4 linked regions of the Homo sapiens genome follow. The main gene of each other region encodes a partner of the protein of the gene in region 3 in a complex. Each region holds a gene or a part of one and is shown on either strand. Other genes may lie near its edges. The genes, in order: TRAPPC11, TRAPPC9, TRAPPC8 and TRAPPC12.

Region 1 (7,257 bases), on a different chromosome or scaffold from region 3:
CAGCTACTTGGGAGACTGAGGTGGAAGGATCACACCTGTGAACAGCCACTGCACTCCAGCCTGGGCAGCATAGTGAGACCTCATCTCAAAAAAAAAAAAAAAATACAACATTTGGACATCTGTTGTTTTAAATGACACATGCCACTGTTGTCTTATTTAAATATTTTAATTCCAGTTAACTTTTAACAATTGATTTGACATTTTAAAACAGCATTAACTCATATTACCTTAAAAACAATTTCTCTGCATATTTTTTAATACTTTATACGTAATTTAATTCAAGCAATTGAACTATAACTGTTAAATTACTGGCTAGGCGAGGTGGCTCATGCCTGTAATCCCAGCGCTTTGGGAGGCCAAGGTGGGAGGATTGCTTGAGGCCAGGAGTTTGAGACCAGCCTGGGCAACATAGTGAGAACCCATCTCTACAAAAAAATACAAAAATTAGCCACACATAGTGGCATGTGCCTGTAGTCCCAGCTACTTGGGAGGCTGAGATGGGATGATCGCTTGAGCCTAGGAGGTTGATGCGCAGTGAGCTGTGATTGTACCGCTGCACTCCAGCCTGGGCAACAGAGTGAGATCCCGTCTCAAAAAAAGAAAAAAAGGAAATGATTATCTCCAGCAAGTGTATCCTCTATAGAGGATGATATTGACATTGCTTTTCAGATCGTTGATTCCAGTAGGTAGAAGAACATTGAGCTCAATAATGTTCCCATCAGAACAGAACACGGAAGTTTCCATGTTAATAAAGCTGCCTCTTAGCACCTTTACGATTCTAGAATGTTGAAGAGTCTGAAATGATTATATTAAATAAAGGTTTCAAGGAGTGTACACATACAACGTTCATATGAAGATTTATATTAAATGAGCTGTCTAAAATGAGTTGTGTCTCATCTTACGCAGGTTTTGATCTTTCTGATCCTGAAAAAGAAAAGGTGGGAATTCTTGCCATTCAGCTGAAGGAGAGAAATGTTGTTCACTCTGTAAGTTTTGTGTCCAATATAAACTATTTTTTACACTATTTAAGAAAAATATTTGTATTGAAATGTTTCACACTCTACTTTTTCTAATAGGAGATAATCATAACTCTTCTGAGCAATGCTGTTGCACAGTTCAAGAAGTATAAGTGCCCGCGAATGAAAAGTCACCTAAGTATGTATCCACAAACGTCACCATTGCATGCAACTTTGAATGACTTTAAGTTACATACATAAATCTTTTTTTCCTTTATAGTGGTTCAGATGGGAGAGGAATATTATTACGCAAAGGATTATACCAAAGCTTTGAAGTGAGTCCTGTTCACTATTTACTTTTACAAGTATTTGGATTATCTGAAGTGAAACTGAAATAGAAATCAGTGTTGAAGGAGTTCGTATTTTCATATTTATTTCTATTGTTGTTAAACTCCATTTCTGTAATGTTTTTTTCAAGTGCTATTGATGGCACAATCTTTTTCAGTGTTTTAAGAAATCTCACGTTTAGCTAAATATGAGAATACCTGTTCAACCATCTCAGTAAGATTTTTCTATACTTACATAAAATGAGGAAAGTATTTTTTTCTCCATGAACTCTTCGAACCCTTTCTTGTGAAGCCGGTTCAGTATTACATTTTGTCTTCTTTGAGGTTGCTGGATTATGTGATGTGTGATTATCGGAGTGAAGGATGGTGGACTCTGCTCACTTCTGTATTAACTACAGCTCTGAAGTGCTCCTACCTCATGGCCCAATTAAAGGATTACATTACTTACTCCCTAGAACTCCTTGGTAGAGGTAACCTGATGTTTTTTGAGTAAAATTCTTGATACATAAAATTATTTAGCATCTTTAAGCTTTTTAAAATTTAAAGAATAATTTAGTCCCAGATAATTAGTATACTTTACTATGTGCAAATCACTGTGCTTAGTCATCTTAAAGAGGTATTTATTATTATATCAAGTTTCTAAAACAATAAATGGGGGTAGTAGACTTAATTATAAGTACTTAAAATGTTTTTCCTTCTTTCTTCATACTAGCTTCAACTCTGAAAGATGACCAGAAGTCTCGGATAGAAAAGAACCTCATAAATGTTTTAATGGTAGGTTGGAATTGTTTATATAGAGTGTGTTATTAGGAATATGTGTACTTATATCTATATCAACTAATCCAAGTAGTGGTTTTTATTCAACTAGTTGAATGGATGTTAACTCTGTGTTGATGCAGAATGAAAGTCCTGATCCAGAACCCGACTGTGATATCTTAGCTGTGAAAACTGCTCAGAAGCTGTGGGCAGACCGAATTTCTCTGGCTGGCAGCAATATTTTCACAATAGGAGTACAGGACTTTGTGCCATTTGGTAGGTAGCTAACATCTACAGTACTATTTCAGAGAAATTGTCTTATTTCTACAAAATGAATAGGTGCAGAATAATAAATATAAAAGTCAAGAAAGAGTTTTCAAAGTATAATCATGTTATAGATAAACTGATTTTTTTTTGTGTCCCCTCAGTGACTTACAAAGGTAGTTAGGATCTTAAATACTTGACTTATGTTTTAAAATACACTTTGCTCATTTGTAGTTCAGGTGTTATTAGAAACACCTGACAGTTATTTAAAAGGTTGTGCTTTACTGTCTAGGTAGGTATTTTGAAATAATAATAAAATGGTTCTTTTTCATTTAAAATCTTGTCATCTACATTTCAGGAGCAGCTGTGTTTTTAAAATTAAAGATGGTTTTGAAGCTGTAATTTATTTAAATTTTATTTTATATTATTTATTTGTTCATTTATTTTATTTTTCTTTTTCGAGACAGGGTCTCACTCTGCCACCCAGGCTGGAGTGCAGTGGCATGATCTCAGCTCACTGCAACCTCTTCCTCCCAGGTTCAAGCGATTCTCCTCCCTCAGCCTCCTGACTAGCTGAGATTACTTATGGGCGTGTACTACCATGCCTAGCTAATTTTTGTATTTTTAGCAGAGATGGGGTGTCACCATGTTGGCCAGGCTGGTCTTGAACTTCTGACCTTAGGTGATGCACCCGCCTGAGCCTCCCAAAGTGCTGGGATTACAGGCACGAGCTACCATGCCTGGCCTATTTATTATTCTTTTTGAGATAGAGCCTTGCTCTGTCACCTAGGCTGGAGGGCAATGCTGCGACCTCCGTTTACCACAACCTCCACCTCCTGGGTTCAAGTGATTCTTGTGCCTCAGCCTCCCTAGTAGCTGGGATTATAGGTGCACACCACCATGCCCGGCTAATTTTTGTATTTTTAGTATAGATAAGGTTTCACCGTGTTGGCCAGGCTGGTCTCAAACTCCTGACCTCAAGTGATCCGCCTGGCTTGGCCTCCCCAAGTGTTGGGATTACAGGCGTGAGCCACTGTGCTCAGCCTAAATTTTATTTTTATAATAAAAAGTTAGCTCATTTGTCTCTTGAAGTGCCTTAAGTGCAGAAGTCAGTAAGAATGGTCAGTGCAGATGTGTCTTTCTGAAGAATCAATTTGGTTAACAGGATGTGTGTGGGTCGTGGGTATCTGGTTGTGCATAACACAGCCCTTTTGTTTTATTTCTAGTGCAGTGCAAAGCCAAGTTTCATGCCCCAAGTTTTCATGTTGATGTTCCTGTTCAGTTTGATATTTATCTGAAGGCTGATTGTCCACATCCCATTAGGTTTTCCAAGCTCTGTGTCAGCTTTAATAATCAGGTAATGATGCCATGTCATGTGTTTTTACCACGTTTATCTTATTGTAGCTTATGTTAAACTAGATAAAATGAGCTTAGTGAATTTTATGTCTTAATGGTTTCATAGTAACAAATGAACTTTGGTAAGGTCTATTCAAAAATATATCTCCAGGGCCGGGCACAGTGGCTCACGCCTGTAATCTCAGCACTTTGGGAGGCCGAGGCAGGCAGATCACAAGGTCAAGAGATCGAGACCAGCCTGGCCAACATGGTGAAACCCCGTCTCTACTAAAAATACAAAAAAATCTGCTGGGTGTGGTGGCACGTGCCTGTAGTCCCAGCTACTTGGGAGGCTGAGGCAGGAGAATCACTTGAACTCGGGAGATGGAGGTTGCAGTGAGCTGAGATCGTGCCACTGCACTCCAGCCTGGTGACAGAGCAAGATCTGTGTCAAAAAATATATATATATATATGTTTCTAAACTTCTAGCAATTCAAGTTTACACTTTGCTTACTCCAATTTTTGTTTTCACTCCATGTTTATAAAGTCTTAAGAATTCTCTGTGTGTGTGTGTATATATATATATATGTACACATATAGTATATATATACTTTTTTTTTCTGTCTTTTTTGAGACGGGGTCTCGCTCTGTTGCCCAGGCTAGAGTGCATTGGTGCAATCATAGCTCACTGTAGCCTCAACCTTTTGGACTCCCACCTTAGCCCCCTAAGTAGCTGGAACTACAGGCACCTGCCACCACGTCTGGCTAACTTTTGTATTTTTTGTAGAGACAGGGTTTTGCTGTGTTGCCCAAGCTGGTCTTGAACTCCTGGGCTCCAGTGATCCACCAACCTCAGCCTCCCAAAGTGCTAGGATTACAGGTGTGAGGCATCACATCTGGCCTTAAATTTTTTTTATAATGTATACTTGAATTCCAAATAAGGTATATTCAGAATGAATAGAATTAAAAAAACATTTGGTTTATATTTTACTTCAACATTATTAGTTAATGTTATTAGTTTATGATTATGGAACTAATTTATGTTTGACATTTAAAAAATTGAAATGGAATAGATGGATATAATGTGAAAAGTAAATGTGTGTCTTCTTTCTTCTCCATTCTCCCACACACCCTCTACGTTAACTTCTTGAATAACCTAGACATTTTCTGCACATGAATATATAAGCAACTTTTTTTCTTGCAGAATTGGGATCATATTTCCTGCATTTGAATATATTTGAAGCATTATATAGTATATAGTCAAGTACTTCATTACAACTCTATTATAAACTCACTTAGTAGATAATCATCTTTTGATTACCCAGAAAGTATAGTGAGTCTTTCACCAACAAGCATTTATTGAGAGTTACGATATTCTTAACATGCTGAATCTGAGTATAGCATATGTCGACCTCATTAAAATTTAGGCATTTTGGGGACAAGGGCCAGGACAGAATCAAAGATTGCCCAAATAGGTAATGAAGACTAAATTACGTAGTGTAGGCTAGAAAGAGGGACAGCTGTAGTAGGCATGCCAGAAAAAAGGGAGGGAGTTCCAAGAATGAAGATGAAATTACGATAGGTCGAAAAGATGGAGGGGGAGAACATGTTTGGCAATGAGAAAACACTGCATGGAAACAGAAGCGCACAATCTGTGTTTCTGGGAAAGTCACACCTCACTAGAACAGAGGGTTTATAATGCTGGGTGGTGGGAAATAAGGCCAGGTGGCTTAAAGGAACCTGGAAGAGTTAAGCGGGGATAGGCTAGTAAACAGATGTCTTTGAAGATTTATTTGTTCTTTTGTCTGTGTTCTATTTATTGGATGGTGATAAAGAAACGTTATCTGTTTTATTAGGATTTGATTCATAAGAAAAGAGAAATATCTCTGTAATAGAAATGATTAGATGAAGCTGGGTCACCTGAAGATCAGTATGTTCTATTCAACTTCAGACCCTTGCCCAGGGATTTCCTCTAATCCGTTTGAGAATTTTATTTTAGTGTGTGTGCGTGTGTGTGTGTGTGTTTGTGTGTGTTTTGAGACAAGGCTGCACTCTATCTCCCAGGCTGGAGTGCAGTGGCACCATCTTGAGTTACTGCAGCCTTAGTCTCCCAGGCTCAAGTGATCCTCCCACCTCAGCCTCCTCTGAGTAGCTGGGACTACAGGCACATGCCACCATGCCCAGCTAATTTTTGTATTTTTTTATAGAGATGGAGTGTTGCTCAGGCTGGTCTTGAACTGCTGGGCTCAAGGAGCCCACCCACCTCAGCCTCCCAAAGTGCTGGGATTACAGGTGTGAGCCATCATGCCTGGCCCAGTTTGAGAATTTTAAAGCAAGAGCATGCAATTTATTCTTAAAGTTTTAAGAAACTTTATTCTAGTAGCAAAATAGAAATAATATCATGGAAGCCAATTAGAGGCTCTTTATATTAATCCATGTACAAAAGTACAAGTATCGGAATTGAGTTGCTGGTGTTGGGAATGGAGATTCAGGGATATAAGAGGCATTTAAAAATAGATAAATCTGGATTGCCAAGTGCATATAGCGGCTGAAAAGTGGGGATAGGATGAATGAAGGACAGGAGGTTTTGTACATGCCCTTTCCTCTGCTTGAATTGGTTTGCCCTCCTCTCCGACTACTTCATTCCTTCTTGCCTTTTCTCACTTAAAAGCATCACTTCTTCAGGGAAGCCTCCCCTGACTTACATGACTGAATCACTTAGCCAGGCTCTCATAGCCTTGGTAGTACTAATCACACTGTGGTTTCACCGTTGTCTGTGTGATTATTTGGTAAATTACCTGTTTTTCCTTACTGGAATCTAAGCTCCACAAGGGCAGAAGGGCAGGGGTTTTTTTTGTTTGTTTGTTTTGTTCATTATGAAATTAGAGGGTCAACACAAGGACTCTTTTTTTTTTTTTTTTAAAGAGATACTTTGTTGCCCAGGCTGGAGTGCAGTGATGTGATCATAACTCATCTCAGCCTCAAACTCCTGGGCTCAAGTGAAGTATGGGGACTCTTATTTTACTTTTCCCTTAATAGCCTACTATTTCATTTCTTTTCTTTCCTTTTTTTTTTCAACAAAAAATATAAGCTACTATAATTAAAAACTAATAACGCTAAAATGGAATATAAAGCAATTAGTTTTAAAATTTAGATTATATTCTGAATATATCTTATTTGAAATTTAAGATACAGGCGGGGCGCAGTGGCTCACGCCTGTAATCCCAGCACTTTGGGAGGCCAAGGTGGGCGGATCACTGGAGGTCAGGAGTTCAAGACCAGCCTGGCCAACATGGTGAAACCCCATCTCTACTAAAAACCCAAAAATTAGCTGAGCGTGGTGGCGGGTGCCTGTAGTCTCAGCTACTTGGGAGGCTGAGGCATGAGAATTGCTTGAACCTGAGAGGCGGAGGTTGTAGTGAGCTGAAATTGCATTTCTAGTGGGCGATGGAGTGAGACTCCGTCTTAAAAGAAAAGAAATTCACAATATAAACCATAAGAAAAAAAAAAGTAGAGTAGTTTTTATAAGCATGGAATAGAAATGAAAATTGGCGGGAAAGTATAATACTTGAACTGTGTAAGAATTTCTATGAAGGTAA
Region 2 (7,257 bases), on a different chromosome or scaffold from region 3:
ATTCACCTGCCTCAGCTTCCCAAGTAGCTGGGATTACAGGTGTGCACCACCGTGTCCATCTAATCTGACAACACATCATTAGTGTTTTGTAGTGTAGTGCGGAAGGCATTAGTCTATTTCGGACAGGCAGGAGAGGAGTTTAGGAAAGGAGTGATGGGGGGTGGGGGACGTTTTAGCTGTGTATGGTCTTGTTTAATTGGCTTTTAATTTCAGGCTGCATGAGTTGTCATTGGAGGGACTAGATTTTATGGAGAACAGACTTAAAGAAACTCAGAACTTGGCTGGGTGCAGTGGCTCATGCCTGTAATCCCAGCACTTTGGGAGGCTGAGGCGGATCACCTGAGGTCAGGAGTTTGAGACCAGCTTGGCCAACATGACGAAACCCTGTCTCTACTAAAAATACAAAAAGTAGCCGGGTGTGGCGTCGGGCACCTGTAATCACAGCTCCTGAGGAGGCTGAGGCGGGAGAATTGTTTGAACCTGGGAGGCAGAGGTTGCAGTAAGCCGAGATTACGCCACTGCGCTCCAGCCTGGGCCACAAGGGTGAAATTCTGTCTCAAAAAAAGAGAAGAAAAAAAAAAGAAACTGAGAACTCTGGTATGGAAAGATGAATGTGGAGAAAAGCTGTAGTCAGAGTTCAAATCATCTTTAAAGTACACATGAACTCGCTTGCTCACTAAACCCAAAGATGGTAAAATAGGCAGTATTTCTTGAAGCCAAAGGAGTGGGTTTTTCAGGTTATCCAAGAATGAATCAAAGGCTGGAACTGAGGTGATCAGGGGTCAAGCGCGGACTTTGCTTGGCCATCTCTTTTGGATGGTGCACTCAACAAGGGCACTGACTGTTTACAAAGTGTCCTTCCTCTAGCATGTGGTGGGTATACCTGGTAGTCTAGGAACCTTCCAGGTATCTGTCCAAGGCATAGGGCACAGCATCCCTGTTTCAGCCATCTCTCCATCCATCTTCTTCCCAACACTGTGATTTTTTTTTTTTTTTTTTTGAGATGGAGCCTCGCTCTTGTTGTGCTGAAGTGCAGTGGCGCGATCTCGGTTCACTGCTAACTTCCACCTCCCAGGTTCAAGTGATTCTCCTGCCTCAGCCTCCTGAGTAGCTGGGACTATAGGCACCCACCATCACGCCCGGCTAATTTTTATATTTTTAGTTGAGATGGGGTTTCACTATGTTGGCCAGGCTGGTCTCGAACTCCTGACCTCAGGTAATCTGCCTGCCTTAGCCTCCCAAAGTGCTGAGATTATCGGCATGAGCCACGTTGCCTGGCCTCAACACTGTGATTCTTTTTTTTTTTTTTTTTTTTTTTTTAGATGGAGTCTTGCTCTGTGCCCAGGCTAGAGTGCAGTGGCGCAATCCCGGCTCACTGCAAGTTCCGTCTCCCAAGTTCACGCCATTCTCCTGCCTCAGCCTCCCAAGTAGCTGGGACTACAGGTGCCTGCCACCACGCCTGGCTAATTTTTTGTATTTTTAGTAGAGACGGGGTTTCACTGTGTTGGCCAGGATGATCCTGATCTCCTGACCTTGTGATCTGCCCACCTCATCCTCCCAAAGTGCTAGGATTACAGGCGTGAGCCACCGCGCCCGGCCTCCAACACTGTGATTCTTTATGGACCTATCTCCTCTACTACTTCATGAAGTTTTGAGGGACCAGGTCTTATTGAAGTTTTTGTTTTGTTTTGCTTTGTTTTCATTCTTACTTTTGAATGATTAAAACTGAAAATGGATCCAATTACTTTAGACAGATGCTTTATAAAGGAAAATCCTTGGTGCATGCCTCATACCCCTACTCCGGGATATGAGAAAGTAGGTTATGTTTTTAACAAACTTTTTTGATAGACATATATGGAAAGTTTGTATAATTTTGAAGATGTATTTTCTCTCCATGTAATTATGGCTGGAAATAGCCGGAGAGAGGAGCAGAGTGTGTTTTCAAACCTGGGAATGTGTGGGGCCTGCTGTTTCCCATCCGGCATTCTCCCACGGTCATCATTTAGTTGAGTGCGGCCACCAGGCTGCCCCTACACATCTGTCACTGACTTGTTCTTCTGATCACTGCAAGTGCCCACGTTTGAGAAGGCTGATGAGGGTTAAGGCATTTTCTAGAGCATCAGTGGCTGGTTAACTTGGGGTTAGAACTTGTGGTGTCAAAGGCATTAACTAACAGTGATATTTCTGTTTCTTGAACACTCACTGAGAGTTTTAGGCTTATGCTCAGTGTTTGCATTATTTCATTGAGTCTTTTTGACAATCGTAATTAGATTTGATGATCCCTGTTTCTTAGGGATATGCAGATGTGGCCCTGGAACTCAGGACTTTACAGCTCCAGGCTGTATTCCTCCCTCTCCATCCTGCCAGAGACAAGTCCTGTGTCTGGAGTTTCCCTCTGATCTTGTCACTTTATTTCTTATTAACAGAATAAAGCAGGTCTAAACTTACTTTCTACTTGGAAATGGAATGGTGAGTTAATATTTGGATCCCTCAGAGTCTGCCTTGTGAATAAAGCTCCTTGTCTTGAGTAGTCTTGGAGCCACTTTCGTTGGAACCTCACATAAACATCTGGGCCCTGAACTTGGACTTCGTGACTGTGCAGCCTATTGAAAGATTAGAACAAAGATGTGCTGATTAATATGCCCTAAAAGAGCAGCAGGTTGGAAATGAGTTTGGGGATTTCATCTCATTTCAAGATTTCCTGAGGATCTTGGCCTAGCTTTGCCAGGGACCATTTTGTACTCCCCGGCTCCTTGTGCCATAGGTGCCTGTGTCGACCAAACATGGCTTTGTCCTGAGGCTCTCTGGGCTCATGGCTTCTCAGTCAATTGTCTGCCTAGTGCCCAAAAGCAGTTGCGCTCGAGCTTTTCCCATTAAGGAACCGTTTTAGGGCTTTAAAGTGATGTCAATTCCATTTGCAATGTAGTATTTATCATTTGACTTCTTATTACACTGAAATGATAAGAGGAATGAAGTAATATTATTACTGATCATAGTATTATTTACAACCTTTCATCTTAGATAGGTTCCATGAAAGAATCAATGGGAGTTCTAACGCATTGGTGGCCAAGGCATGTGACCTTCCCCGGCTGTCACCTTTATTTTAGATGGTGACCTCTTTACAGGCACTGGCTAAGATCAGTATTCGTCTTCTCTGCCCCCTTCTCTGCCCCAACATCTTTGATCATGTCTGGCACATAGTGGGTGCAGCTGAAGGTCTGGGCATTTCCAGATTTGTGATGAAGGCGTTAAGTACCCCCACCTCTTCTTTTTCTTTTTTTCTTTTCTTTTCTTTTTTTTTTTGACATGGAGTTTCACTCTTGTTGCCCAGGCTGGAGTGTAATGGCACAATCTTGGCTCACTGCAACCTCCGCCTCCTGGGTTCAAGCAATTCTTCTGCTTCAGCCTCTCAAGTAGCTGGGATTACAGGTATGCACCACCACGCCTGGCTAATTTTGTATTTTTTAGTAGAGACGGGGTTTCTCCATGTTGGTCAGGCTGGTCTCGAACTCCCAACCTCAGGTGATCTGCCTGCCTCGGCCTCCCAAAGTGCTGGGATTACAGGTGTGCGCCACTGCGCCCGGCCAACCCCTGCCTCCTCTTTACAGTCCTCTTCCACCCCGTCCCTGGCTGCTGTCCTCCAGCACTGGGGCTTCTGTTCGCTGCTGTACTGCACACTCCTGGAAAGGGACAGGCCATGTCCTACTCAAATTTGAATATTCACGGACCATAGACCTAGACAACAACTTCTAGATGAAAACATAGGATATCTTTGTGACCTCGGGCAAAGATTTTTCTCAGATGAGGACATAGAAGGCACTAACCATAGAAGAAAAAGCTGATAGATTGAGCTACATCACAGAGAAATGCTTTTGCTTATGAACACTCCCTTAGGGAAATAAATCGGCAACAGACCGGGAGGAAATATTTGCAAAACACATATAACTAAGGACTTGCATTCAGAATATATACAGAACTCGTACGACTCAGTAATAAAACAAACGATCTAATTTTAAAAACTGTCAGAAGATTTGAACAAGCGCTTCACAAAGGAAGATATACCAGTGGCCAGTGATCATATGAAAAAGGTTCAACATCATTAGTTTTCAGGGAAATGGAAGTTAAAGCCACCACAACGTCTAAAATAAAAAAGACTGATATCCTCATATGCTGGTGAGCAGGTGATATCCTCATATGCTGGTGAGCAGGTGATATCCTCATATGCTGGTGAGCAGGTGGAGCAACAGGGATTCTCACACATCGTCGGCGTCGGCATGACCTTTCACTGTAGGAAAAGTGGGGCTGGCAGAGATCCGATATGTAGGTAAATTGTGTGGGAGACACAGAGAAAGGACATTATGGAGTCCAGCATGGTTAGGAGAATTTAGGGAAAGAAGCAGCAGCTTCCCGCTGAAGGGCATGAGGACCAGCTTCTTGGAGAGGGTGGCATTGGAACCGAGTGTCCAAAGGGAGAGCCAGATGTGGCTGTGGAGGCATTGCAGGAGCAGAGAGCCTGTGTGCCCCGGCGGCGTCACCTAGTACAGCCTGCCTCATACGCTTCCACCCATGATTCTATGTCAAAGAGTATTTCATTGGACTTAGAGCAGCTATTTTGTTTATTTTTTCATTGATTTATTGTCATCCTCCCCACTGATTCTAAGCCAGGGGACTAGCCTGTCATTAGCATGGAGGCCCCCAGGGGTAGGAGTCTTAGCTTGTTTTGCTCACTGCTGTATCCTCTGCCACAAGAGTGGCTGGCACCAGAGTAGGGGTTCAGTAAATATGTGTTGACAGAATGAGAAAACAAATGAGTTAAAGTTGTTCAGTCTGGTGAGGTCATAGGTAGGCAGTGGGGCCTCGAATTTCCAGAGCAGGTTGGGGCTGAGGAGGGCCTGGCATGCCCGTGAAGGCATTTGGGCTCCATTTTACAGTCCTGAAGGGGTCTAGTGGTTTCAAGATGGGGATTGTCTTAGTCCGGTGAGGCTGCTGTCACAAAATGCCACAGACTGGGTGGCTGATAAACAATAGAAATGTATTGTGCACAGTTCTAGAGGCTAGAAGTCCATGATCCAGGTGCCAGCATGTTTGGTGTCTGGGGAGGGCCCACTTGCTTGTTCATAGACCGCCGTCTTTTCTCTGTGTTCTCACATGGTGCAACAGGTGAGCTAGCTCTTTAGGGTCTCTTCTTATAAGGGCACTAATTCCATTTGTGAGTGCTTCACCCCCTGACCCAATCACTTTTTAAAGTCCCCACCTCCTAATTCCATCACCTTGGGGGCTAGGCTTTCAACATGTGAATTTTGGGGAGGCACAAACATTCAAACCGTGGCTCGGGTGATGGGCTCTGAGCCATGTCTCAGGAACCTAAGTCTGGCAGGGGTGTGTGGACAGGTGAAGGAAGGTCGAGAGGTGGTAGGAAGACAATGCCGATTCCTCTTCCAGATGAGGGCTGACGAGGGCCCCATCGAGGCCATGGCAGTGAGCGCGGAGGAGAGGGGATGGAGGGAGGGTTTGGAGGCCCAAGTTGGAAGGGCGTTCAAGCTAAGGCTCTGTACTCACAGAAACATCAGGGAAACATTCATCGTCCAGGGCAGAGGAGGGAGAGAAGCGCTTCCTTAACAGTGCTCCTGGAGCAGCAGAGTGGGCTCTGCCTTCCTTCTTCTCTGAAGGCGCTGTGCAGTGGGCAGGGCCCAGGCCCAGAGTCAGGTCTTGTCCCTGATACTTCTTGGCTGTGTGATTTTGCACAGGTGATTAATGTGTCCCTGAGCTGTTAATGTCCTTATTTGCCAGCTCACAGGATGCTTGTATTGAGTAAATCAGGTACGTTAAGTCTGCTGCCATACAGTAGGTGCTGAAGAAACAGAAGTTGTTGGCTGGGCGTGGTGGCTCACACCTGTAATCCCAGCACTTTGGGAGACTGAGGCAGGCAGATCACCTGAGGTCAGGAGTTCGAGACCAGCCTGGTTAACATGGTGAAATCCCGTCTCTACTGAAAGTACAAAAATTAGCCAGCATGGGGGTGGGTGCTTGTAATCTCAGCTACACTGGAGGATGAGGCAGGAGAATCTCTTGAACCCGGGAGGTGGAGGTTGCAGTGAGCCAAGATCGTACCACTGCACTCCAGCCTGAGTGACAGAGTGAGACTCCGTCTCAAAAAAAAAAGAAAAGAAACAGAAGTTATGATTGCTACACTACAGGGTTGTTGGGAGGATTCAGTTGGGTCTTGGATGAAAGAAAACTTTTGTAAACCCTGAAGTCTTAAGTCTGATATCAGTGGTATTGTTAATAATTCATTACCCAGTTACATGATTCTGTGTCTTCTTGTGTTTTAAGAATTTTTGTGTTTGATGAGAGACCTTGATAAAATCCTGTTGTGTAGATGAACTCTTGTTCCTTTTCTTTTCTTTTGTGAAGGAACTTAAAGTAGAGGTCTCAGATTTGTAGCAGGTACCTTTGTAGCAGAGAATCTGGGCTTTATCAGCAGGAAGATGGGCTGCACCTGCAGCTGTGGCTGGGGAAGGTCTGAAGCCACCTGGGGCCTGCGCCATGCGCTGCTCACCAGGCTTTCCCTCTCCTTGATTCTCCTCGATTCTCCTCAGGTCTTTGTTTTATGAAGAGACATTTTTAATGTGTGCTTCTTTTTTCACTTATACGTTTCTTTCAAAAGCTTTTTACTTTCTCTCTGTGCTTCAGCTTTCTGAGGAAGAGAAAATTCAGCGCTACAGCATCCTCTCCGAGCTCTATGAGCTGATCGGCTTCCATCGCAAGTCTGCGTTCTTCAAGCGCGTGGCCGCCATGCAGTGCGTGGCCCCAAGCATCGCGGAGCCTGGGTGGAGGGCCTGCTACAAACTCCTCCTGGAAACGCTGCCCGGCTACAGTCTGTCGCTGGATCCCAAAGATTTCAGCAGAGGTACTGGAGTCCCCTTGCTGGCGCTAAGGTGTTGCTTTCTGTCTGATGGTCACATGCTGTTTCAGCCCCTGCCCTGAGTGGCAGACATCGTGGTTGGTGCTGGTGGCTCCAGAATGACTAGATCCCTGCCCTGGAGTTGGGTGCCTGCTGTAATCCGATTATAGGAAAAAGTACTGGTGCTTTGCCTTGGGGCTCGGATTCTTGAATCTTTATCAGTGGGAGTCAGAAATTGCCTTTGAGTTCATTGGCATGGTGTGTCATCATCAATCAAACAGTGGAAGTACCTAATGAATTTTACTCATGAGATTTAGTTAGTTTAGCACAAATCAATGAACCCAGAATAAATA
Region 3 (7,257 bases):
TCAAGCGATTTTCCAGCCTCAGCCTCCCGAGTAGCTGGGATTACAGGCGCTCACGGCTTATTTTTGTATTTTTAGTAGAGACAGGGTTTCACCATGTTGGCCAGGCTGGTCTCGAACTCCTGACCTCGTGGTCCGCCCGCCTCCGCCTCCCAAAGTGCTGGGATTACAGGCGTGAGCCACCGTGCCCGGCCGAAATTAGTTTTAATACTGTATTTTATTTAACTCAGTATTTCCAAAATGTTACTATTTCAATGTGTAATCAATGTGAAAAATATTCATGAGATATTTTACATTCTTTTTTATTGCTTAGTCTTTGAAATTTGGTGTGCCTTTTATACTTAACATCTCAATTTGTACTAGTCACATTTCAAGTACTCAGTAGCCATATGCAGCTGTTGCCTACTGTATTGGACAGTGCTGTGATAGCGGCTCATTGTCAGTACACTTCTGATTTCCTTCAGGAGACTGGGGAAGATTAGGGAAGGAGTTTTTTTGTTTGTTTGTTTTTTGTTTTGAGACAAGGTCTTGCTCTGTTACCCACGCTGGGAGGGCTGGAGTGCAATTGTATCACCATAGCTCCCTCACCCACTGCAGCCTCAACTTCCCAGGTTCTAGCTATCCTCTTGTCTCAGCCTCCCAAGTAGCTGGGACTACAGGCACATGCCATCATGCCTGGCTAATTTTTAAATTTTTTGTAGAGATGGGGTTTCTCCTTGTTGCCCAGGCTCGTCTCGGACCACTGCGTCCAGCCTAGTGAAGGAGTATAATGAGTTGGACGTTAGTGGACAGGTAGACAGTTGGTAGAAAGCAAGAGGGCAGTCATTCCCTATGAAGGAGTGGTATGAGGTTATAATGGTATGGGCAAAAGGTCTAAATTATGACTGAATGGTTGGGAAACAGGGAGGAAACTCTTACTGGGGTACAGAGTAGTAAGAGGATGCTTAGATAAAGGGAGGACCTTGAATTCTAGGAAAGGGATTTGCGATTTTATGTCTAATGGTAAATGTGAGTAGATTCTTGAGGGTCTGAAACATTTGGACATTAATGAGTTGAAAGTTTTGGAGATTAGTGAGTTGTGTGGTTTATAAGGATAGATATAAGTAGATACAAGTTTTACATTTCAAGATGAACATGGACTATGATAGTAGCATTAGAAATTTGGCAAAGAGGACTTAATTTTTCTTGGTTTTAGTTTTTTGCTGGTATAAATACATTTTAGAATTCTTTACCACCTAGAACAGCTACTTTTTGTTTCAAGTGTGGGGATTCTTCAAAGACAGCTTTTTTTTTTTTTTTTTTTTTTGAGACGGAGTCTCGCTCTGTCACCAGGCTGGAGTGCAGCGGCGAGATAGATCTTGGCTCACTGCAAGCTCCGCCTCCCGGGTTCAAGTGATTCTCCTGCCTCAGCCTCCCGAGTAGCTGGGACTACAGGCTCGTGCCACCATGCTCAGCTAATTTTTCTATTTTTGGTAGAGATGGGGTTTCACCATGTTGGCCAGGATTGTCTCTATCTCTTGACCTCATGATCTGCCCGCCTTGGCCTCCCAAAGTGCTGGGATTACAGGCATGAGCCACTGAGCTAGGCAACAGCTTTTCTTTAGCAAGTGAGGCATGAGAATATAATTTCAGGCAATGTAATTTAAGAATACAACTGACTAAAACCAGCTAACATTTCCTTAGAGGGAGAAAAAATATGTTAAAAAAGAAGACTCAATTTCTGGCCTGTAGGTATGCCTTTACTTAGGGTAGAACTTTGCCTTGACTGCTGAGTTTTCAAGGAGTGTCAAGTACAGTGCCAAGTATTGTCAGGAGACTTATTTTTAGATTTTAGTAGAAAACACTTGGTTTAAAGCTATACCAAAGAGAGGGTTGGTAGAAGAGATTTGAGTACTATTTGTGTGTAGGGCCTTCAAAATACAGTTTAGACTTGATGTATTACACAACGGAGAGCCATTTTAGGTTCCTTAGAGACATTTTAAAACCTGAAGAGTATTAAATTATGTTAAAATTAAATTATATTAAAATATATAATTAAATTTATTATATGTATTTTCTGTGATTGTTATGCTTGATGTATGTTTGAGAGTTAATGTAGTCATTGTTTGACACAAATTTTGAGATCCTAATACTCAAAGAATTTCCACTGGCCATGTTTCAAAGAGTCGTGGTATTAATATTAATTAATCAAGCAAACAACAAAAAATTAAAATTAAGCCTTGTTTTTGCTTAGTGATAGTTCTTTGATAGTTCTAAACAATGTTGCAATATATCATTTAGATGTTCTGTAAGTTTTAAGAAAATTTCACTTAAACACTAACTTGGAAGTATGTGGGTTATATATTATTTTATTTTGAAATTAAGGTTACTAAAGGGATTAAAAAGTAGGCCAGGTGCAGTGTCTTAGGCCTGTAATCTCAGCACTTTGGGAGGCTGAGTTGGATGATAACCTGAGGTCAGGAGTTTGAGACCAGCGTGGCTAACGTGGCGAAACCCCATCTCTACTGAAAGTACAAAATTAGCCTGGTGTGGTGGTGGGCGCTTGTAGTCCCAGCTGCTCGGGAGGCTGAGGCAGGAGAATCACTTGAACTCGAGAGGTGAAGGTTGCAGTGAGCCAAGATTTTGCCACTGTACTCCAGCCTGGGTGACAGAGCGAGACTCTGTCTCAAAAAAACAACAAAAAAAAGTAGACTAGGATATAACTTTTGAAGGCTATTTAATATCTCCAGTTTTCTTAAATTTCTTTTTCTTTTCTTTTTGAATTCTTGAAAAACATTGTGTGATCCTTGTGCAGGAGCTATGCTAATCTTCTCTGTATCATTCCAATTTTAGTATATGTGCTGCTGAAGTGAGCAGTTTTTTTTTTGAGACAGAGCCTCACTCTGTTGCCCAGGCTGGTCTTGAACTCCGTGGCTCACTATAGCCTCAACCTTCTGGCTCAAAATATCCTCCCTCATCAGCCTCACCAGTAGCTGGGGTTATGGGCATGTACCACCACACCTGGCTAATTTTTGTAGTTTTTGTAGAAATGGGGTTTTGCCATGCTGCCCAGCCGGTCTCAAACTCATGGACTCAAGCAATTTACCCGCTTTGGATTCCCAAAGTGCTTTGATTACAGGCGCGAGCCACTGCGACCGGCCTTAAATTTCTTTCCTTTTCCTTTATTTTTATTTTTTGAGACGGAGTCTCGCTCTGTCACCCAGGCTGGAGTGCAGTGGTGCGTCTCAGCTCACTGCAAGCTCCGCCTCCTGGGTTCACTCCATTCTCCTGCCTCAGACTCCTGAGTAGCTGGGACTATAGGCGCCCACCACCACGCCTGGCTAATTTTTTGTGTTTTTTTAGTAGAGACGGGATTTCACCATGTTAGCCAGGATGGTCTTGATCTCCTGACCTCGTGATCCACCCGCCTTGGCCTCCCAAAGTGTTGGGATTACAGGCGTGAGCCACCGCGCCTGGCTCCTTTTTTTTTTTTTTTTTTTTTTTTTTAAAGACGGAGTCTTGCTCTGTCACCCAGACTGCAGTGCCGTCGCACAATCTTAGCTCACTGCAACCTCCGCCTCCCAGGTTCAAGCAATTCTCCTGCCTCAGCCTCCTAAGTAGCTGGCATTACAGGCACGGGCCACCACTCCTGGCTAATTTTCGTGTTGTTAGTAGAGACAGGGTTTTGCTATGTTGGCCAGGCTAGTCTCGAACTCCCGACCTCAAGTGATCCACCCGCCTTCGGCCTCCCAAAGTGCTGGATTACAGGCATGAGCCACTGCGTCTGGCCTCTTAAATTTCTTTTAGTTGGAAATATTTCATCAATCTTAACTACCATGTTTATATAATGAAGTAATTAATCTCCAAGGTGTGGAAGTACCAAACTCTGAATAAAATTCAAGTCAGTTTTTCGAAATTTGTTTTCATTTTGTTTTATTAATTTTTCGAGACAGGGTCTCACTTTGTCACCTAGGCTGGATACAGGGGGCATGATCATGGTTCACTGCAGCCTCGACCTCCTGGGCTCAAGCGATCATTCCACATTGGCCTCCTGGGTAGCTGGGATTACAGGTTTGCATCACACATTTGGCTAATTAAAAAAAAAATTTTTTTTGTAGAGATGGGGTTTTGCTGTGTTTCCCAGGCTGTTCTTGAACTCTTGGACTCAAGCGATCTGCCAGCCTCGGCCTCCCAAAGTGCCTAGATTACAGGCTTGAGCCACTACACCCAGCCAGAGGGTTTTTTAATATGGTAAAGTTTTATATGTATAAAGTATACAAGATCCTCCTACCTTAGCCTCCTGAGTAGCACACAGGTGTGTGCCATCACACCCAGCTAATTAAAAAAAATTTTTTTATAGAGATGGGGTCTTGTGCCAGGTGTGGTGGCTCACGCCTGTAATCCCAGCACTTTGGGAGGCCGAGGTGGGTGGATCATGAGGTCAAGAGTTTGAGACCGGCGTGGCCAACATGGCGAAACCTCGTCTCTACTAAAAAAACACAAAAAATTAGCCGGGTGTGGTGGCGGGCGCCTGTAATCCCAGCTACTCGGGAGGCTGAGGCAGGGGAATTGCTTGAACCTGGGAGGCGGAGGTTGCAGTGAGTTGAAATCATGCAATTGCACTCCAGCCTGGGTGACGGAGCGAGACTCTGTCTCAAAAAAAAAAAAAGAAATGGGGTCTCTCTCCCTCTGTTGTCCAGGCTGGTCTTGAATTCCTGGGTGCAAGTGATCCTCCTGCTTTAGCCTCCTAAAATGCTGAGATTACAGGCTTGAGGCACTCACTGGGTGCAGTGGGTCCAGTGGCTCAAGCCTATAATCGCAGGCTTGTTCATAAAGCCTGCTTTTTTTTTTTTTTTTTTTTAAGATGGAGTTTCGCTCTTGTTGCCCAGGCTGGAGTGCAATGGCACGATCTTGGCTCACCGCAACCTCCACCTCCCAGGTTCAAGCAGTTCTGCCTCAGCCTGCCGAGTAGCTGGCTTGAGCCACTGGGTGCAGCGGCTCCAGCCTGTAATTGCAGACTTATTTATAAAGCCTGTTTTTTTTTTGGTTTGTTTGTTTGTTTGTTTTTGAGGTGGAGTTTCGCTCTTGTTGCCCAGGCTGGAGTGCAGTGGCGCAATCTCGGCTCACTGCAACCTCCACTTCCAAGGTTCAAGCAATTCTGCCTCAGCCTCCCTGGTAGCTGGGATTACAGGCATGCGCCACCACGCCTGGCTAATTTTGTATTTTTAGTAGAGACGGGGTTTCTCTATGTTGGTCAGGCTGGTTTTGAACTCCCAACCTCAGGTGATCCGCCCGCCAAGGCCTCTCAAAGTGTTGGGATTACAGGCATGAGCCATCACGCCCGGCCTAGCCTGTTTTCTTTGTACAGTTTTATATGCTGGGTAAAAGCATAAAAGATGTCATTATTTTCAAAATACATTTTATTTATTTATTTATTTATTTATTTATTTATTTATTTATGAGACGGAGCCTCTCTCTGTTGCCCAGCAGGCTGGAGTGCAGTAGTGTGATCTCAGCTCTCATTGCCCAGGCTGGAGTGCAGTAGTGTGATCTCAGCTCTCATTGCCCAGGCTGGAGTACAATGGTGTGGTCTCGGCTCAGTGCAACCTCTGCCTCCCGGGTTCAAGCGATTCTCCTGCCTCAGCCTCCAGAGTAGCTGGGATTACAGGCACGTGCCACCATGCCCGGCTAATTTTGTATTTTTAGTAGAGACGGGGTTTCACCACGTTGGCCAGGCTGGTCTTGAACTCCTGACCTCTGGTGATCCGCCCGCCTTGACCTACCAAAGTGCTGGGATTACAGGTGTGAGCCACTGCGCCCAGCTATGAAGCAACTTTAAGGAAAATACTTGTCCAATATGTTCCTAAGGATATCAGAAATGCACCATAGTTTTTTTGTTTGTTTGTTTGTTTCTCTGCTGCATAATTAGACTGACTGGGAAGTTTAGGGAGAGAGGCTGGTATGTTTATTTAAGTTAGAAAACATAACAGTTATAGAAGAATGCAGATAATACAAGAAACATCCACCTCCCCACTACCCAGAACTAACAAATATTAACCCTCCATCATATTTGCTTTTTATCTTTTCTTTTAAAAAAAAAATCAAACGTTATAGGACAGACTTCCCAGGTTGAAGTTTTCTTTCTACCTTATCTTAGTCTCTTTTCTTTCCTTCCTTTTATAGGCAACCACTATCATAGAATTTGCATGTACCATTTTTTTTTTTTGAAAGGGAGTCTCTGTCGCCCAGGCTGGAGTGCAGTGGCGCAATCTTGGCTCACTGCAACTTCTGCCTCCTGGTTTCAAGTGATTCTCTTGCCTCAGCCTTCCAAATAGCTGGGAATACAGGCGCTTGCCACCATGCCTGGCTAATTTTTGTATTTTAGTAGAGATGGGGGTTTCACCTTGTTGGCCAGGCTGGTCTCGAACTCCTGACCTCAAGTGTTCCGCCCGCTTCAGCCTCCCAAAAGTGCTGGGATTACAACAGTGAGACACCATGCCCGGCTGCATGTATACTTTTTGTGTATCTATATTTATGTTTACAATATAAATACACATTTGTACCACATACAGTATTTTAAAAACGTTTTTGAGTCTTTTTTTTTAGTAAAAAATGTTAGAAATCAATAGAACACATAGGAAATGTAGAAAAGTTTGTATGCATATAACTTTATTTAAAATATACGCAGGCCTTGATTTTGGTATAAGGCATTTTCCATTGAGAAGAATGTGTCATTCTTTATTTGTAGGTACCCAGACCACTTTCCCAAAGTTGCCTCTTATTTGTATGTGATAATAACCCATGGTGCAGGTGAAATAGGTGATGTTGTATCTGCTGCTGCTGCTATACCGCCTTCATTATGTATTGTTGAGCATGGTGCTCAGTGCTTTGCAATTACTGTCTAACAATAGTTCACCTAAATCACTAAAATGATCCCGTGAAGTAGATAGTAATCACATGTGCAGATGAAGAATTTGAAGCACAGAAGGGTTAAGTTGTTCAGGGTAACCCAGTTGATAAGTAATGGGTTGGGATTTAAATCAAGGTCCAACTCCAAAAGCTGGGTCCTCAATCATTATAATGGACTCCTTTTTTTTTTTTTTTTTTTTGAGACGGAGTCTCGCTCTGTTGCCCAGGCTGGAGTGCAGTGGCACGATCTCAGCTCACTGCCAGCTCCGCCCGCCGGGTTCACACCATTCTCCTGCTTCAGCCTCCCAAGTAGCTGGGACTATAGGTGCCCACCACCACGCCCGGCTAATTTTTTATGTTTTTAGTAGAGAC
Region 4 (7,257 bases), on a different chromosome or scaffold from region 3:
GTGCCGAGTCCCCAGCGGAATGTGCCAGCCACTTGAGTTCTGGAACACGGTGTAGCACTCCTTGGGGGAACCGGCGTCTGCACCAGCCCATGGTCGGGAGGCAGGGGAGGCCTCATGGCTGGGCATGGGTGGGGCCCTCCGGGTGGCCTCCCATAGGTCAACTGCGAGAGGCTGGCGGCCACCCTGGCCAGTGGCCCTCCCAGCCTTGTCGAGCTGCAGGCAATGTCGTCGTTTCTGTCAGCTTTGCTCCTTTTCTCAGGGTTCTGGCTTTGGAAACGGGGCCCCCGGTCGGACCATTTGGCCTTGTGTCTGGGCTGATGCTGAGCAGCCACCCTCCTGGTTCTCTGATGCCGAGGGTCTCTTCCCAAAGCCACCTCTGGTCCCAATGCGAGTGCTGTATTTTCTGCCTCAGTGCAGCCTGCAGCATATTCAGCATTCCAGGCCGAAATCCAGTGGTGTTAACAAGAGGGATCTTTTAAAGTTAAATTAGAATTCACAGGACCCAGTAATTGAGGGCTAGAAAGAGCCTCGAATTTATTTGTGCACTTACAGGCTGCTCTTACCTTGTAGCCTCTATCCGGCTGTGGAGGTCACGTCTGGGCCGGGTGATGTACTCCATGGCAAACTGTCTGCTCCTGATGAAGGTACGTGGGTGGCCAAGCAGGGCTGCCATGTGATCTGGAAGAGCGGGGTCAGTGGGAGCCGCGAGGGAGCCGCTGGTATAATAGATGCTGGCAGGGACCGGCCGTGCAGAGAAGCCAGCTAAGTACTGGCTTAACAGGGAGCCCAGTGACACATTATGGGGCTATATGTACTTTATTTCTACTGCAAGAAATTTCAACAGAATGTAGAATTTAGATGATCAGATTTCATTATTGAAATGTGGGTCTAAATGATTTAATTAAAAGTATTGTTCATTTTCCCCCATTTTTCTCTGAACTCCATCCCCAGAAGGTGTCCTTTGTTCTCCCTATCTTCGTGGAGGGTGTTTTTTTCACCTCATGGTTTTGATTTTATGATTGATGCTTACAACACCTGAAGACAGGCTTCCCCACAAGACCTTCTTAGGACGTCACCCCAGAGCTCTCAGCCCGCAGGGAAACAGCTTAGAAATCAAGGAGCTGAACTGAGGCTGTCATCTGTTTTTCCGTGTCTCCTGGCTCTCGCCAGCCTGTGCAACGGTGTTTTTTGGCTCCTCTCTTTGTTTGGAACGCACCCCACACCTGGCTCACCTCCCACACTGGGCATCAGGGTGCCCTGTGTGGAGCTAGTGTCCCTGCAGCCAGCTGTGCGTACTGAGAGCTACTGCAGGAATCAGCTAGCAGCAGGCGCTCCGGAGCAGTGCTCGTAACACCTCCTGGGCTGTTCGAAGACAGCGACCTTAACTCCCACACCCATGCGGCTTTCATGGGGCCAAGGTCATTCCTGAGCTTGATTTTCAGCAAGGCAGAGCAGGCAATTTACCAGCGGAGAACTGTGCTCACGGGCTCTGTCATGAACCCTGAAGTGGCAGCCCTGCTTTATGCACGGACCCTGCAGCATCCCCAGAGGTGACTGTGACCCCGGGCACTGCTCCGAGCAGGCTGGGTGCGGGTATAGATTCACAGCCATCAGTGGCTCAGGCATTCCATCAGGAAGACGTGCAGCCCGCACCCCGGCTTTAGCGCAGCCCCAGTGCCCAGTGCGGGGCCGCTGCCTTTGCGCTTCTGCGTCTACGTCAGGCTGGACGCACAAGGAGACTCGGCGTCCTGTTCATCCTCGGTAGCAAGCGACCGTGACGCAGCCTCGCACTACTGCAAGCCTCAGCCTCCTCCTTAAAATAAGGGCATAGATCTGAGATCTCTGAAATCCCTCCCAGCTCTGACATTCACACAGCTCTCTCCTCTCCTTCAACACACTGGATAAAGGAAATTACGGTTTTCAAGTTCTGTGGTTTTGCTCAGAGCAGGTTTTTCTTCCGCTGCCACTCCTGAGATAGTCCCACTGAGGTCAGGTGGCCCGCACAGGTGCTTTGTTCTGGTCCTCACCCTCCTCCCACCCGCCCCCTTCCCTTCTCCAGCCCCCTCTGGCTTCTGCAGCAGGGCTTGCCCACCTCTGAGTGGGAGTGAAAAGTAGGCCCTCCTGCTCCCCTGCCCTGGTGGCCTCTTCACCACCCAAGGCTTGGCCAGCAACCAGGTGACCCCGAAGCACCCGGCCTGACCCCTCTGCCTCCCAAAACAGGCCATTCTCCCTGTGCTGCCTGTGGCCAGCCCTGACACCCCCACCTGGCGGTCTGGGCGGTCCGCAGTAGGCCTCCACCTGCTGAGGGCATTGTCAGCGTCACCTGAAAGTCACCAGCTTGCCGGAACATTCTTATGCAAAGACATGAAGAATCAATTATAAATTCACAGGACTGACGTTTCACTAATCATGGGGCTAAAACTCCCCAGGGAGGAAAGTTCCCTGTTCCACTGGCGGGCTTTCATTTGCATTTTAAGACACATTAATAGAAAACGACGGAATGGGCTTTTCTTTGTGGCACTGTGGTAGTAACACCACCACCAGGCTCCGAATGTGAGTCTTCTTCCTGTATTGCTGGGACTCAGTACAGAACATATTATTGCATTTCAAAAATACTTTTACAATGGACATGATTTAATTTGAAAGTTCAGCTTAAGCTTTCATTTTCATGAGTTAAAAAAAGGAGGCAAAAATGTTGCAATTAAAGCCAAGCCAAGCATATGCACTCTCTTGCCATCTAGTGAGCATACAGGGTATTGCAACAGTGTGTGATCTTAATAATATGGGGTATCCTGTTAATTAAATTATGTATATGGGCTAACAATGAGTTATTTAATCAGCCATTTAATTATCTTGAATAACATTTTTATTACAGTGAAATAAATACCAATTTAACTTCTTAGCAATGAAATGTATTCATACGTTTTAGCCCTGGATAAATCTGCATGATATGCTATAATGCACAGTGGCATGTATTATAAAGCATTGAAAATGTCACTATCTTCACTTTTTAAATACTTCTTCCTCTCCTTAGGCCTCACTGTAGCCTTAGGGCACCTGCACTGGCAGACCATATGGATGCAGGTGCCTGCCACCTTAGGTGGCTTGGGCCCCCCCTCCCCCGGGTGCCCCTGGGAGGCCACTTCCCTCCTGGTGTCCCCACAGCTCGCCAGTATGCACATCAGAACCCGCCGTGGCTCCGCACATGATGGAAAGGAGCACGCAGCTGCATCAGCTACCTTCCGTCTTGCTGAAATTAGACTGCAGAAGTCCTTGCTGGTTGCAGAATGGTTGTAAATCTAGTTTCACGGCCTGTAAACACGTGTGGCTGCTGAAAAGAAATGGTGAAGATTGAGCTAAAATAGACTTGTCCCTGGAAGTAAGTCATTCATGTCCTTTACAAAAGCCAAATCCACAGGATCTGGAGAGTAGGTTAAGCTCTCTTGAGGAGCTTCTTTTGGCCATTTTACCTGTGAAGGGCTGTTTCCTCTTCAGTAAATAAAGTCATTAAGTAACCGTCAACCTAAGGAAACTTTGTAACACAATCCCAAATCCTCATCTGCTGTATTGACGATGGGCCCCCTGAAGTGCCCCAGAATTCTTCCCCCAACTGCAGCCCGGACACACAGACACGTGTCATGTTCACACCTGAGGGACTGGCGAGCGCTACTGTTGCTGAGCTGGTGGGAGTGGCTGCCGGCGGGTGCAGGGGCCCCCGAGATCCCTTCTCTGCCGCGCCTGCCCCCGGCCTGGAATCCAGCTTCCTCTCACACGGCTCCCAGGCCTGTGCACGTGCTCTTTGGGAAGAGCCATGCCTAAAGTAACTTCCCATCAAAGAGCATGGCTTGGTTTCGTAAAAACCTGTCTTTTGTCATACTAGATTATCTTCAGAAACACTGACCCCTGGCCCTGAGCACTGAAAGAGCGGTTAGGGTGATGCGGCTGGCCACGGCATCGCCCACTAGCAGTGAGTGCTGCGCCCCCACCACGCCCCCACCCTGCGCTCTCTGTGGTGGCCGCCTCAGCCTGGAGCATCAGTGGCGTGAGTGGGGCACTGGAATGACCCAGTGACACTGCCGGGCTGATAACAAGAAAGTCAAAGCCTGCCTTTTGTTTACTTGAAACCAAAGGTGGGACATGTGTGGGATTAGAACAGACATTGCCCAGCATGATGGGTGCTCGGAAGCCTACTTCCTTCCCCAGAGAAGCCTAGGGGGGCAGCTGCTACTTTTCCCCGAGCTGGTGCAAGCTGGTGAGTGCAGCCTCTGTTGGAAAGCAGGGCTGCTCCCCTAAACTTCTCAGATCAGGGCCAGCCCAGGGTGTGCAGGCCCCACAGCTGCATCTGGGGTGCCATGTCCGTCCCAGCTGCAACCTCAGCCGCCCCGAGTGCCCCCATGCCAGGTCACAAAGCCCTCCCCTGTGTGAGGGAGCTCACACACACACGTCCACACACACACATGCTCACACACACGCTCACACTCATACACAATGCTCACACACGCTTACACACACATGCTCGCACTCGCACAGCTAGACAGCAGAGACAGGCAGCAGGAAGGCGTGGGAAAGGAGACCGAGGCATGTGCTGTCTGGCTCGTCATGGGCGTCAGGCCTTGAATAAAATTAGTTTTAATGAGCTGTACTCGAAGGTACTAGACTGGAGAGAGTCGTTTTGGGTTTTTTTTGTTTTTTCCTTCCTACCAAACTGGAATTGTACTTGTCTGTCTTTCTTTGTAACATCCCAATTAGCAAGCCAGTAACTCCAGTCCCAGTTTGGAGGAAATGGAACATGTAGAAGAATAAAGAAATAAAAGTACCTCTGGGATTATACGATGAGTAAGTAAGAAGAAAAACACCATTGGTGGCCATAGTTACTGCTGACCGCGTGCTTATAGCTAAGTGCGAGAATGCAGGGGAGCATTTAGTGCAGGGCCTGCCGCACACAGCTCGCTCAATAAATGCGGCGATCACTGTCATCCTGGAGAGAGCCCGGGTTTGCTGGGGACTTGAGACAAGCTACCACTGTGTCCCACGTGACTTTGGCAAGACCTTCCTGCACGGAGACCGCGTTGCTCACACCTGGAAAGGGTGACTGGGTCCGCTCAGCGTCCAGCAAGTGGCTGTGATGGGCCGGCATGAGTGGGCAGATGGACAGTGAGACTGTGCTGCCAGGCCTTGCCCTTGAGGAGGGGCCACGGGCCAGACCACCACAGGCAGGGCAGAGCGATGAGGAATCCAGCAAAGGCCTTTGGCAGAAACCAGATGCCCTGAGCACGGCAGCTGGCACAGCGCTCCTACATGTTCCCCCGTAGCTGTCTCTAAAACGGGAAGGTCTCATGCGTGCCGCACGGAGCACACGACATTCACGCACTCTGCAAGGCCGACCTCCATCACATACTCAGCCTCAGCAAACTTGTTTTGTGGTTTTTCTTTACATGTAAAGGTTTGACCTTAATTTCTAGCATAGAAAACGTTTAAGAGACACTTTAAAAATTTGGCCTATGTATTTGGAGGATGGAGATGAGACAGCGTTCGCCAACTCACATGATAACTTTGTCAGGAAAGAGAGTTAGGTGCAGTCCAAGTGAAATATGAATCGCTGTTTAGAAGATGGAAGCAGGAAACAGACCCTCAGGCCCAACTAAACCGCGACAGCCCCCGGTGACAGGCAGGACCCCGCCGTTGCGATGCGCACAGCTCAGAATCCCGGCCCGACTGCAGTCGGGAGAGCAGCCGCCCCCTGGCAGCCGAGCACCGCGTGCTGGTTTCCAGCTTCCCCGCCAGCTCCTGCGTCAGCGTGTCCTCTCTCTACACCGCGTCTGTATACACTTGTGCTCTTCTACACGTGTGAAACCCACAGTGCTGTTCTCAGCTCTAAAGTACGTTGGGTTTTTCTTCCCACAGGATTATGTGCTGGCCGTGGAGGCGTATCATTCGGTTATCAAGTATTACCCAGAGCAAGAGCCCCAGCTGCTCAGCGGCATCGGCCGGATTTCCCTGCAGGTACCTGTGCACGGTCAGACATGAGCCAGAAAGGCCTTATGATAGTTCTTTGCTCAGATGGGCGACTGTTTGCTTTTAATCATTTTAATATAAGAAAGACTGCAGAAAATATTCCAATTCAAATGTATGTGACCATGAAAAGGGTGGGTTCTTTCCAGGAGTTCTGGTTTGACTGTGGGAGGCCCTGCTGGCTTTTGTGCCTGTTGCTAAATGTGAACCCACAGAAAGTGTCATCACAGCCACACTGAAATGAGTTACTCTAGACATTGTCCTGCTGCAGTTACGAAAGCACTGACTAAACCGTGAGGAATCTCAGTTCAGCTTATCCCGTAATAGTCACTCGCTGATATTTTGCCTGAAATAACCCTTGAATCATGTTTGCTGGACAGACAAAGTCCAGACTGAACAGTGGTCTCAGTAATGCACAAAGCTCGGCAGGACCCCCTTTGCTAAGAATGTCCTTGAAGCTGGAATGCATTTTCCTGGAATATTTGGTGACAGGGAGGTCACAGGGAGTGATGAGTCCCGCCCACATCCCTGTCAATCCCACCCTTGCAGGCGGAGCACAGGGCAGCTTCTGCCCCTCTCACCCTCAGTCTTAGGTCACGTCCCAAACCTGGGCCAGGGAAAGGAGGCACGAGCAAGGGATGGCTGAGCGGGGAGAAGCAGCACAGACCTTCCACAGGCACCCACTCACGGTGAGCCAGGCCCTGCGCTGAGCATTTCACCTCACGGTGTGACTGGCTTGTTTTACAGATCAGCAAACTGAGGTCTCCTGGTTAAGTGATATCCAGCTACAGGAGGCCACATAGATAATGGGGAAGCTAGAATTTGAACAGGGCCTCTGTGAACTCAGGGCCTGCACTCTCAGCTAACAGCTGGTCCTCTCCCCCTCCACACAGTTGCTCACACATGCACTGACACACGTAGGCACACGTGCACACACCATCTCCTGCACGCCGCCTGCTTGTGGAAGTCCACATGGGACACCAGATAGTGTTGGAGGACAGCCCTGTCCATGGGCCCCTGTGGTGGGGCACAGCAGATGACTGTCACTGAATAACCCCAGGCAGGCACAGATGCGTGACGCGTGAGCTGCCACCATGGGCATCGGCTCCTGCCTGCACTGGGATGCTTGCAGCAACCCTCGTTACCTGTGTGAGAAAGCTCTGTGTGGCCAGGATCTCCAGGCTGCCTCATGTGTAACATTATCCCCTGGTTATCATAGTAAAATAGTACGCTGGGCCTGCTCAG

Evidence for each region.
Region 1: TRAPPC8 (region 3) and TRAPPC11 share a complex: the UniProt entries of both Homo sapiens proteins name them as parts of the multisubunit TRAPP (transport protein particle) complex.
Region 2: TRAPPC8 (region 3) and TRAPPC9 share a complex: the UniProt entries of both Homo sapiens proteins name them as parts of the multisubunit TRAPP (transport protein particle) complex.
Region 4: TRAPPC8 (region 3) and TRAPPC12 share a complex: the UniProt entries of both Homo sapiens proteins name them as parts of the multisubunit TRAPP (transport protein particle) complex.

Annotation. Positions count from the first base shown.
Region 1 is NC_000004.12:183,683,069-183,690,325, forward strand, and holds part of TRAPPC11 (trafficking protein particle complex subunit 11), read left to right. Parts: intron 1-906; coding exon 907-986; intron 987-1,076; coding exon 1,077-1,155; intron 1,156-1,236; coding exon 1,237-1,291; intron 1,292-1,627; coding exon 1,628-1,773; intron 1,774-2,015; coding exon 2,016-2,077; intron 2,078-2,202; coding exon 2,203-2,335; intron 2,336-3,549; coding exon 3,550-3,680; intron 3,681-7,257. UniProt on the Homo sapiens protein: Involved in endoplasmic reticulum to Golgi apparatus trafficking at a very early stage.
Region 2 is NC_000008.11:140,370,617-140,377,873, reverse strand, and holds part of TRAPPC9 (trafficking protein particle complex subunit 9), read left to right. Parts: intron 1-6,693; coding exon 6,694-6,910; intron 6,911-7,257. UniProt on the Homo sapiens protein: Functions as an activator of NF-kappa-B through increased phosphorylation of the IKK complex. May function in neuronal cells differentiation. May play a role in vesicular transport from endoplasmic reticulum to Golgi.
Region 3 is NC_000018.10:31,933,129-31,940,385, reverse strand, and holds part of TRAPPC8 (trafficking protein particle complex subunit 8), read left to right. Parts: intron 1-3,934; exon of another isoform or gene 3,935-3,965; coding exon of another isoform or gene 3,966-4,047; intron 4,048-7,257. UniProt on the Homo sapiens protein: Plays a role in endoplasmic reticulum to Golgi apparatus trafficking at a very early stage. Maintains together with TBC1D14 the cycling pool of ATG9 required for initiation of autophagy. Involved in collagen secretion.
Region 4 is NC_000002.12:3,459,693-3,466,949, forward strand, and holds part of TRAPPC12 (trafficking protein particle complex subunit 12), read left to right. Parts: intron 1-570; coding exon 571-644; intron 645-951; coding exon of another isoform or gene 952-1,011; exon of another isoform or gene 1,012-2,906; intron 2,907-5,904; coding exon 5,905-6,003; intron 6,004-6,561; exon of another isoform or gene 6,562-7,257. UniProt on the Homo sapiens protein: Component of the TRAPP complex, which is involved in endoplasmic reticulum to Golgi apparatus trafficking at a very early stage.